Linked DNA regions of Homo sapiens. The protein of the gene in region 2 binds, or shares a complex with, the protein of the main gene of each other region. Each region holds a gene or a part of one and is shown on either strand. Other genes may lie near its edges.

The links. Proteins that work in one complex are often made in the same cells at the same time.
Region 1: the proteins of TNPO3 (region 2) and CPSF6 are in contact, whole or in part, in a crystal structure (PDB 6GX9), measured with the Homo sapiens proteins. Residues at the interface, in NP_036602.1 of Homo sapiens: Arg620, Asn656, Arg657, Glu660, Arg661, Arg664, Arg667, Phe668, Arg671, Ser698, Cys699, Tyr702, Ile706, Asp709, Asp747, Asp750, Asp751, Arg754, Arg758, Gln761, Cys793, Arg797; in NP_008938.2 of Homo sapiens: Tyr521, Arg522, Glu523, Arg524, Ser525, Glu527, Arg528.

What each region holds. Positions count from the first base shown.
Region 1 is NC_000012.12:69,270,569-69,274,892, forward strand, and holds the end of CPSF6 (cleavage and polyadenylation specificity factor subunit 6), read left to right. Parts: 3' UTR 1-3,790; downstream 3,791-4,324. UniProt on the Homo sapiens protein: Component of the cleavage factor Im (CFIm) complex that functions as an activator of the pre-mRNA 3'-end cleavage and polyadenylation processing required for the maturation of pre-mRNA into functional mRNAs.
Region 2 is NC_000007.14:128,954,112-128,961,145, reverse strand, and holds the end of TNPO3 (transportin-3), read left to right. Parts: intron 1-3,679; exon of another isoform or gene 3,680-3,830; coding exon 3,831-3,891; 3' UTR 3,892-3,922; intron 3,923-5,760; coding exon of another isoform or gene 5,761-5,779; 3' UTR 5,780-6,961; downstream 6,962-7,034. UniProt on the Homo sapiens protein: Importin, which transports target proteins into the nucleus. Specifically mediates the nuclear import of splicing factor serine/arginine (SR) proteins, such as RBM4, SFRS1 and SFRS2, by recognizing phosphorylated SR domains.

The DNA of each region.
Region 1 (4,324 bases), on a different chromosome or scaffold from region 2:
TTGAAGGATGTGATGTTCATTAACATTCGGTTGTATTCCCCAGTATTTGTAATGGGAAATTACAGATAAACCGTGTCTGCACAGTTTAAGGAATACTATGTATATTCATGCACCGTATTGATTCATGCTATAGTTACTTAATCAAAGATTTTTTTCAAACCTGCCTTACATATAGGCCCACTTTAAAAGCACCTGACTAGCATGTGTTCTTGATTGCAAAATTGGCAGAGGCAGGGTGTCAACTTGATTAGGTGTTTTTATGGGAATGTAATTTGAAATCACTACTTCAGAAATTTGACTTAAAATTCTTGAGCACGTTAATATGTTTTTAAGATCTGATTATCTTTGAGAGATCTTCTGTTAATACACATTGGTTGTTAAAGAGTACCCAAATTCTAGGACAATGCTTAAAGTGTTAAAATACCCTAGATACTGTGTTATGTGCAACTGTAGAAACCCTCCAGAAATTTCCACTGCTGTTCTTCACTTTCATCTTGTCTGCTATCAAACCACTTCTGACAAAATTAGCTGTTTTGAATTACCCATATCACTGCCAGTTTTATTTTAAAATATTTTGTGTTTGAAGTATCTGTGCATGGGATCGTTGATGTTTATCAGAACTGTTCACTTTCAGAAATGATTTTTTAAAGCATTTTGTTGAAAATGCGGTTGCTTTTTTAACATTATTTTAGAGTTGTATCAAAATTTTCCTGTTTTCTGTATATTGTTGTGTCATTTCTTGGCTTTTTAATATTTTGACTACAATGCCCTAATGCGAAGAAGTATGGACATATAAATATTACAAGAGAAATTAGTTAATAGTAAAGGGTTAAAAGGTAAGTAAAATGTCCATGAAAATAAAATTTTCTTTGAACAGTTTAAAAATGGAATCACAAAAATCTAACTGCACTTGAAATGAAACTGGAAATTTTATACTAATTAAATCCTTTATTTACCTTTTCATATTTTATCAATGGAACCTTTTAATTGCTCCTTCTATATCACTCTTCTCCTTGCTTGGCTGATCTCATTACATGACTTTCGTTACAGACAGTGTGAGTGTACTAGATTTGTTTGCTGCTAATCCGTTATTTTAAGTGTTGTCAGAAGGAAATAACTTCTTGGTTTGACCAAGTAATTTTGCAAAGTCCTTCTCTACCTGATAACACGTGAATGTATAGCAGTAAAGGTGAAAATTGCAGGCCTTGTTTTGTTCTTCATACCCCCTTCAGTTGTTTATGGGTTAATGTTATTTGAAAACTCTTCCTTTTTTTAATGTGTAAAAACAATCCAAAGAGATAAATCCTTGCATAGACACCAAAAACAGTGTCTCAGAGACCTTTTCATTTTTTCCTTAGTTAATAACTGTAGTGGATGTGAAAACAAACGAGTTGAATTTTAAAACATAGCATTTATTAGTGCTATACAGTCACATTCCTTTCAGCCAGTAGTAAAGTTAAACAGATGAGTGATACAGTACCTGAATGGTACTGCTTCTGAGGCAACACTTTGGATTGAAAGTGCTGCTTTTGGTTAAAGGAACTATGTTGTGGAAAGCATATTCCAGTGTAAATTTGCAGATGTGTGTTTTTTTTTTTTGTCACTTTTCATAAGGTTTGGAGTAAGTTGCAGTGGCTTTTGATCATAGTTTAGCCCATTTAATGGTCCTTTTACCTAGAATGTTCTTAAGCAGTTAATGACAATTTGGAATACACAGATAACTTGTAGCTTAAGATACTATTTTCATTTAATTCTCCTGTGGAGAATATTGCTTTATTTTTTACTAGTTTCAGGTCAGTTATTAAAATAAACATGGAGGTTTTAATGAATGTTGTATAATATTTTATAGTGAAGGAAAATTGTGGAAAGGGCAAAGACTTTCTCTTTCCCTTATGTATTTAACTGTGCCAATCTAAATACATACTGTTTTATACAATGAGATGCATTACAAGACTTTTCTGTTGGAGTGCTCTCGACATTTTGGTTTTCATACCTGAATGATCATTGCATTTTCTGTATTTTCTAAAATGGCTCCAATTTTGTGTTTTAAGCTTCAGCTTAAGAGGAAGTTTATGTTCTAATTCTTGACTGAGAATACAGTATTGAGATTCTCTGTTTTACAGATAACAACTGGTTTTTATTACTCATTAAGTTCATTTGCATCCCGTAGCCCTCTGTAAATGTTTCCCCTAGTTGTATGTACGTAAATGCACGCTTATCCAGTGTATATTAGACATTTTTGTGCTAAAATATATTAAGTGGGATTTTTGTAGCAAAGCATTCTATTTTTCTGTTCTTACAGTGTGTGTGTGTGTGTGTGTGTGTGTGTATGCGTTTTTTTAACCTTAACTTCAGTTTAAACACTGGTGTATTTATTTTTTTAAGCAACTTGACTCTTAGAAGCCTTAGACTGATTTTTTCAATAAATATTCAACCAAAAATTATAAATTTATTAAGATGTGGCCTTACATATGGCATTCCTTGTGTTCGTAATGTGAGATTTTTGATTTAGATAAATCAAGATTCAGGATTAAAGTTTCATTGTAAGTTGAAATAGAAAATGTATTAAAATGTCTAGGCTTCTGGGAGGAAGTTCTTATACTCTTCTTTCTTGGCATTAGAAAGAAGCAATATGAATTTTTGTGAATATTCTAAATATTCAGGCAACACTGTTCAGATTGATTTAGGTTTGTCTTAACCAATGTTCTTTTTTTAGAATTTCAGGTTGTGGCATTCACTGAGTATGCAGCTACTATGGTTTTTGTATGGGACGTATAAATACTTGATTATATACGACAGATTTTAATGTCTTTAAAGACTTCCTGCTGTATTAACATATTGTAATGGAGTCTTTTAAATACTAGGTTGAATTTAATTGAAGTCACACACATCTTGAAGTGGTAACTGCATAGTAAATACTACCAAGAGTTTTTTTCACGTGGGAGTATCCTAAAACTCTGCCATGGGTGTAAATGTTTTACATTAATTTCATAATTGGACAGACCCTGCATTTAGCGAAAACATTTTGTTTTGAAAGTGTGTTCTTTTTGTCGCACTGTTACTGCGTAACACTTCTCAACATTCTGTAAGTTAAATTATTTTAAAATAACTATGGTGAATTCATGTTTATTTTTTTACTTTGAAAATTGTAGTACTCAGGTGGTATTTAATGGGAAAGGATCCTTTGGGTATAAATCATAATGTATTTTAAGGAATGCATCTATAACATTGATAACTTTAGCCTTAAAAAAAAGGTCTATTATTCCTTCCTCTGCATCCCATGGTATATTAGCAAAGTAGTTTACAGCCCTGTACAGCCTTACAAAGTTGTTTTACAATTTTTAATGGAAAGCCCTTAACAACAACAACAAAAAATTGTATCATTTTACCAATATCCACGAATTACTGATCACAGTTTGTAAATAATTTGTTTAATATCAGAAGGCCAAAGAAAGTCTTAAAATTTTAGCTATTGACTCTATGGTGACTTCACAATAAGATTTCTGTGCAAAAAGGTAAGGTGATAATTGATCTAATAGACTTTTTTTTTTTTTTTTTTGCTGTCCATGAGAATTAGACTTCATATTAGCTTCAATTAAAAAGCTCATTCCATTTTATTAAAATGTTTGTAATTGCAATTTTGTGTTTAATGTTTACTTTGTCTTTCCTTTCTTTAGCATTTAGGTGACTGTTCGGCAGTTTGATATATGGCCATTGTCGGCCTTAAACTGCACTAGTAACAAGCATGGTATTTATCTTGTATTGAAAATAAAACAAACTTTTGATAAGACTTTGCAGTTTGTCTTTTTTGTTTAATTTGTTATTTGGTAACCATTGTGTATGGTTTTAAGTAGTTAATGTTTATTGGCAATATGCAGTATAGCAGAAATTGGACTGTTGTCTGTATTCTATCTTTAAGCCAGATAGTGGTGGTTTTCTTGTGTATTGACATTTTGGTGCTCTTTAAAGCGACTGATAATTGGGCTAAAATTAGGATTAAGAGGCCTGACAGATTTCCAGGCTGTTACATGGTTTTTAAATGGAAGATTCAGAAAGCATTTGTCTAGTTTTAGAGGATCATTAACCTTACTAGACTTAAGTAAAAATGTTTGTAGCAAAAATATTTTACTGGTTAGCTTGGAAACATTATGGGGTACTTTTGAAACAGTAACAGACTTCAGTTTCAGTGATTTCAGTAGATATTTCTGTGCCAGGTATTAATATCAGGCCTCAGATTTCTTACCTGCAAGCTTCAGAGTATTAAAGGTAACAGTTCTAAACAAGTGAATATGAACATGAGAAATAATACTACCATCACTGGGAT
Region 2 (7,034 bases):
ACTGTAGACTTTTTATAGATACTGTATACTTAGGCTACACTAAATTTATAAAAAAATTTTTTTCATCAATAATAAATTAACCCTTGGCCAGGCGCGGTGGCTCATGCCTGTAATCCCAGCACTTTGGGAGGCCGAGGCAGGCAGATCACTTGAGGTCAGGAGTTTGAGACCAGCCTGGCCAACATGGTGAAACCCCATCTCTACTAAAAATTTAAAAAATTAGCCAGGCGTGGTGGTGGGCACTTGTAATCCCAGCTACTCAGGAGGCTGAGGCTGGAGAATCGCTTGAACCTGGGAGACAGAGGTTGCAGTGGGCCGAGATTGTGCCACCGCACTCCAGCCTGGGCGACAGAGTGAGACTCTGTCTCAAAATAATAATAATAATAATAATAATAAATTAACTCTTGCTTACTGTAACTTTTTTACTTTATAAACTAAATTTTTTTTAACTCTTGGACTCCTTTGTAATAACACCTAGCTTAAAACACAAATTGTACAGCTCATTAAAAAATTTTTTCTTTATATCTTTATAAGCTTTTTTCTATTCTTAAAATTACTTTATTTTTTTTTTTTAGCTTTTAAACTTTTTTGTTAAAAGCTAAGACACAAACACATATTAGCCTAGACCTACACAGGGTCAAGATCATCAATATCACTGTCTTCCACCTTTTTACATCTTGTCCCACTTAGAAGGTCTTCAAGGGCAGTAACACACATGGAGTTGCCATCTCCTAGGATAACAATGTCTTCTTCTGGAATCCCTCCCGAAGGACCTGCCTGAGGCTGTTTTACAGTAAATTTTTTTTTTTTGTAAGTAGAAGGAATATACTCTAAATTAATGATAAAAAGTGTAGTATAGTAAATACATAACCCAGTAATATAGTTGCTTATGATCAATTATTGTATACTGTAGATAATTGTTTGTGTTGTCCTTTTATATGACTGGCAGTGCAGTAGGTTTGTTTATACCAGCATCACCACAAGCATGTGAGTAACGCAACATGCAGTTGTTCATCTCTATTATACTCATAGGATCACTGTCATACATGCAGTCCATCATTGACCAAAACATCATTGTAGCACATAACTATAGTTCTAACATTCATGGAGCTTTTTCGTTTTTTTGAGACGGAGTCTTGCTCTGTCGCCCAGGCTGAAGTGCGGTGGTGTGATCTCAGCTCACTGCAACCTCCACCCCCTGGGTTCAAGCGATCCTCCAGCCTCAGCCTCCCGAGTAGCTGGGATCACAGGTGCCCACCACCACACACGGCTAATTTTTGTCTTTTTAGTGGAGATGGATTTCACCATGTTGGCCAGGCTGGTCTCAAACTCCTGACCTCAGGTGATCTACCCGCCTTGGCCTCCCAAAGTGCTGCGATTACAGGTGTGAGCCACCGCGCCCGGCCTCAAGGAGCTTTTTGATCCATTTCTATGGGCTCCCCACCAAGGACACTTCAGTTAAACATTTGGCTGAAGTGTTTGACACCAAAGCACTTGCAGATAGGATTGGGGCAGAAGCCAAGTTGACAGTGTCACCTGTCCCTCATTTCACCCTATCGCACTAAAGTTCTCCCACACTTGCATTTCAGTTTCAATACTTTTTCTCATGTGCCACAAAGGAGGCTGTGAAGTTATCATTTCCAAAGTCTCTGCTGGGCACAGTGACTCACGCCTGTAATCACAGCACTTTGGAGGCTGAGGCAGGACGATAGCTTGAGCCCAGAGGTTCGAGCAGCCTGGGCAACACAATGAGACCCTGTTTCTATCTGTTCTGAAAACAAAACAAAACAGAAGTCTCTTGAGGAAGGGTAAAATTTAAAACATGTAAGACATTAGGATAGCAAAAAAATCTCGGTCTCCAGCACTGTCCTAACTTTCAGGGTTTTCTGTTATCCTAGTCCCTTGTGATAACACACCACATAGCAACTTCTCTTGGGTTACAGATCTTCCTCCTTCCTGACATTGGGAGCATGAGTGATATGGGCTCACATACCCTGGCTGCCTCCTTAACAGTCAGTATTAATTTGGAAGTAAAATGAGAAATGTAACACTTAAATTGAAGCTTATTAAATCCACAGAGGTAATGGCAATTCCAATAAAGCCAAAAGACCTTTCTCATTTTCTTTCTTTTTTCTTTTTTTTGAGACAGGGTCTCACTCTGTTGCCCAGCCTGGAGTGCAGTGGCACAATCATGGCTCACTGCAACCTCAACCTCCCCAGCTCAGGTTATCCTCCTGCCTTAGCCTCGTGAGTAGCTGGGACCACAGGTGTGCACCACCACACCCAGCTAAGTTTTAAATTATTTGTAGAGACGGGGTCTCCCTGTGTTGGGATTACAAGCATGAGCCACTGTGCCTGGCCACCTGCCTTATTTTCATTACATTTTTAGGATGGAGAGACTAGAAGAAAGTTTCTAGAATGTTCTGTTGAATCAAGTCATGGAGTCTAAGTCAAGGTTCTTAATGATGTTTCAGAACTTACAATGGATGGGGAAATCTGGATGTAGGAACCTAAATGGATAGCTCTATTTTCACCTTTTCTGTTGGATCGCTTAGAGCAGTTTCCTCCCCTGGTGTTTAACCATTATGAGATGGAAAGTGTGTTTTCATCTGCATTGAATCCTTGGCTGTAGGCACTGGTATCTGAGTTAGTTGAGCCAGGGAGAGGGCTACAGGAAGGCAAGCATATTAAGAATTGCTTCCTGGCTGGGCGCGGTGGCTCATGCCTGTAATCCCAGCACTTTGTGAGGCCGAGGCGGGCGGATCACAAGGTCAGGAGTTCGAGACCAGCCTGGCCAACATGGTGAAACCACATCTCTACTAAAAATACAAAAAAATAGTCGGGCGTGGTGGTGGGCACCTGTGATCCCAGCTACTGGGGAGGCTGAGGCAGGAGAATCGCTTGAACCTGGGAGGCGGAAGTTGCAGTGAGCTGAGATCGTGCCATTGCACTCCAGCCTGGATGACATGAGCAAGACTCCATATCAAAAAAAAAAAAAAAAAAAAAAAGGAAGTGCTTCCTTCTCCACTGCTTTAGCTTTTAGCTTAGCCTTATGTTCATTTAGCAAAAACTGTTATGAAGACAGATACAGTAGAATGAAGCTGGCATCAGCTGGTTTCTTGGTGACAGTTTTGGACAAAGGGAGGTCGGGGGGCTTTTGAAAAAACAGGGTCAGTTGAATATTGGGCTATTCATATCACATAGGCATCTCCTGCTTTGTCTCTCTTTCTACATGCTTTAACCCTTTCCTCTCTCCCTCCTCCTCCCACAGGAGGAAATCCTGAGCAGCCTGTTCAACTAGAAAATCAATGACTGGTGGAGACTTAGTTGCTAGACCGGCCTTTGTAAACAAAATCTATCTTTGGAAGAGAATGAGGAAACTTATGAGAGCCGTAGCAACCAAGTGTTGTTGTAGCAGCCTACATTTATTGAATACTATTTTGTTCACTGCTCTATTTTCATAAGCACTCTGTATGTGGACGATTTTAATCCTCTAAACAGTGTTATGAAGTAGATAATATTAATAGATGAGGAAACTGAGACAAAGATTGGTAACTTGTTCAAGGGCACAGTGGAGCCAAGATTCAAACTCGGGCAGTTTGTGTCCAGAGTACACCCTTTGAAGACCACCAAGCTTATAACTTTTCTCATATATAATAATTTTTGCCCTGAATTACAGAAAGATCTGAAGCCAGGATCGCTCAGGAGACGATGGAGAGAGCTCCTAGCAGAGTTGGGACGGTTCTCAGTGTGCCCCAATGTTGCAGTTGTTTTTCAGCATATTCTGTCTTTCTCCTCAGTCAAGGACCAACCTACCTTTTCTTTTCTAGTGCTGAGGAATGTAAACAAGTTTGCTGGGCCTTGCGAGACTTCACCAGGTTGTTTCGATAGCTCACACTCCTGCACTGTGCCTGTCACCCAGGTGAGGATACATAGTTCCCAGCTTTTGTCCGGACTGTCGGACTGTTGGGGATGCCTGGGAATGGGGATAGGTTTTAATGCCTATCATGGGACCAGTCTTATAGCTAGAGTCAGGGAAGGACTCAGCAGTTTAACTGTGGTGAACAGCTGGAATATACAGGGCCCGGATTTTCTTGGGCCTGGGCAGCCAGTAATTGTCAGTGTCTTTGGGGTACCATTTTCACCTCCATAAGAAAGTAACTGTTACACAGTGCATTGAAACATTTTCTTCCCCCTTCCCCTTACAGACACTTCTAAGATGGTAAGTGTACATGGCAACAAACAAATAAGTATTTTTAACCTGGCCACTTTGGCGAAAACAACCTCAAGTTGACTGTTATATGTGGTGCCAGTCTCCTAAAACTGACCCTCCAGATGTAATGAGCAAAGAGCTTATTCTTATCACTTTTATGACCTGAATGCTGAAGTGCCAGGTTTTGACCAGGGCAGGAGGTATGAATTGAATATCCCTTATCCGAAATGCTTGGGATTTCGGAGGAAAAAACACTTTCAGAAGTGTTTTTCAATTTTGGATTTTTTGGGATTTTGGAATATTTGCAGAATGCACACCAGTTGAGCATTCCTAATCCAAAAATCCAAAATCCAAAATGCTCCAATGCTCATTCGCTTGAGGGTCATATCAGCGTTCAAAAAGTTTCAGCTGTTAGGGATGCTTGGCCCTTACAGGAGAGGAGGAGCATCTTTGGCTCCCGATGAGCACTTTTCTCCACGTGCTTTCCGTCTCCTGGTTCTGAAGCAAAGCAAGAAGCTTAGCTGAAAGGAGTGGGTAGTAGAATTTGGGTGCCAGTTTCTTGATGGAGAGAAGAAAGGTAGCTCTCCTCTAAGCCCACCCTTTGATGTCTCAAGGTGAGTTTCTTCTCCCAGGAGGCAATTCTTGATGAATCTGTAGCACTCACTGGTAGTTTCTGTGTTAAATGCATTCATAGGTAAAAGTGATGTTCAGCAGTGCCTTGCCACACCCAAAATCATTTCTCAACTTTGATTGTTTTAATGAGTAATAATATCATTTGGGATGTCCTGGTTTTGCATGGTGTCTGGGTTAGCTGACATTGATACACCTCATAAGGTTGCTCATGGACAGCTGTAGGTGTTCATGGTTAACTTTTATTGTGCCCTTACTGTGTGTCAGGGCACTGTTTTAAGTGTTTTAGATGTATTAACTAAGATAATCCTCATCTGCTTTTCTGGATTTGTTACTATTTTTCCCATTTTACAAATGAGGAAATTGAGGTTCAACAATGTTTAACAATTTGCCTGACAGTTATTCGTGGAGCCAGAATTCACATGTAGATATTCTGGTACCAGAGTCCTCACTTTGAACCACTCCGCTTAATACAGTATCCTTTCGATAGCATCTAAATTGGTGTTTTGTTTTGTTTTGTTTTCAACTGTTATTAGTAGGCAAAGCCTTCTTTCAAAATAAAATCGACATGAAGCCTGTGGGATTTAGCAGACTGAGGCAAAGCTTCCCTGGTTGCTTTGGAATGGGAGGCCTGGACCTGCTGGCTCTTTGCCCTCCTGACACATCATCCCTTGTTTCCACAGCACACTCAGCATTGGAAGCACACTGCAGACGGTGTCTCATTAAAGCAGTAGCTCCCTTGAACCCACAAGTTAAAACGCCAGACTTTTATTTATTTGTTTATTTTTTCTGAGTTCTTATTGGCAGACTTCAGAATGAGGTACCTGAGGAAATATAGAAACCTCTGCCTTAAGGTTGATTTTACTAAATGCTCTATTTTCTGGTGCAGTTATTGACTGTCTTATCTCTTTTGTCAGGAATGTCTTTTTTAATTAGAAGACAGGAAGAAAACAAAAACCAGACTGTGTCCCACAATCAGAAACCTCCGTTGTGGCAGAGGGGCCTTCACCGCCACCAGGGTGTCCCGCCAGACAGGGAGAGACTCCAGCCTTCTGAGGCCATCCTGAGGAGTTCCTGTTTGGGGGTGTGAGGGAAAATCAGCGCGGATTTTAAAAAGATGGCTGTGGCCTGCCCGGCGTGGTGGGAGGGGAGCTGGTTTCCTGGTGAACTTTCTAAAAGGAAAAATAATTTTAAGTAAAGAAAAAAGAAAAAAAAGGAAGACTAAACAGAAACCAGAACTGAAACATTCACCTGGTAGCAAATGACACATGCACGCACACACACATACACGCACAAGCGCCAGTGCGCACGTGTACACAGAAAAACAAAAGGACAAGCTTTCTGTGAAACAAAATATTTACTTAGGGATAATGTGGGGATTCACATGAATTAAATAGCTGCAATTGGAAGAAGAGGGTCAGGGTCATTTGTTCAGGTTTTCTATTGTTTTGTCCTCTCTTTCCTCTCCTACCCTTCCTTCTCTTTCTCTCTCCCCTCCTTTTAAATGCAAATGAGTAGAAATTTCTTCTACCTTCCCCAGCTGTTTCTTCCCACCTTTAGAGTTGTTTAGACAAGGAGGAGTAAGCAAGGAACTTGTTCTGCTTTCTATCGTGGTCACATTGGTGATGCTCGGGACCTGCCAGGGTCAGAATTTATGGATATCTGAACCCTGACCCCGTTCATTCTCTCAGTCCACTTCCAATCCACATCAGTTTGTTGTCTGCCTTGGAGAGAAGAGCCAAAACTGGGGTGGGCGGGTGGGTGGGGAGTGCAGGATATAAATGTGTAAGTTTTTGTTTTTTAAGGTTTTTTTCTTAGTGAATTATTCACCCACAGACATGAGAGAAAAAAAGAGGGAGGGTGTGTGGAGAAAAAATGTTTACAGGGCTAACAAGGGATGATGTGTCATTTAGTATGTTACTAAAAAGTGTGGAAATGACTTGATTTTAAGGGGAGGGTGAGGCCGAAGAGGGAAGCCCAAAGCAGATCTTAATGTTTCAAAGGAGTGCAGCCCTTCACAGCCATCAGATATGAGGGCACTGTTCTGTCTGGTGTTGTAGCCATCTCAAGAACAAATCAACAGCAACAAAAGAGAAAGAATAAATTTTTAAAATTTAACCAGTGTTTCTTTGTTTTTACTTTCATTCACTGCCTTGTAGCTCGGAAATGGTTCAGCTAGACTAGCTATGGA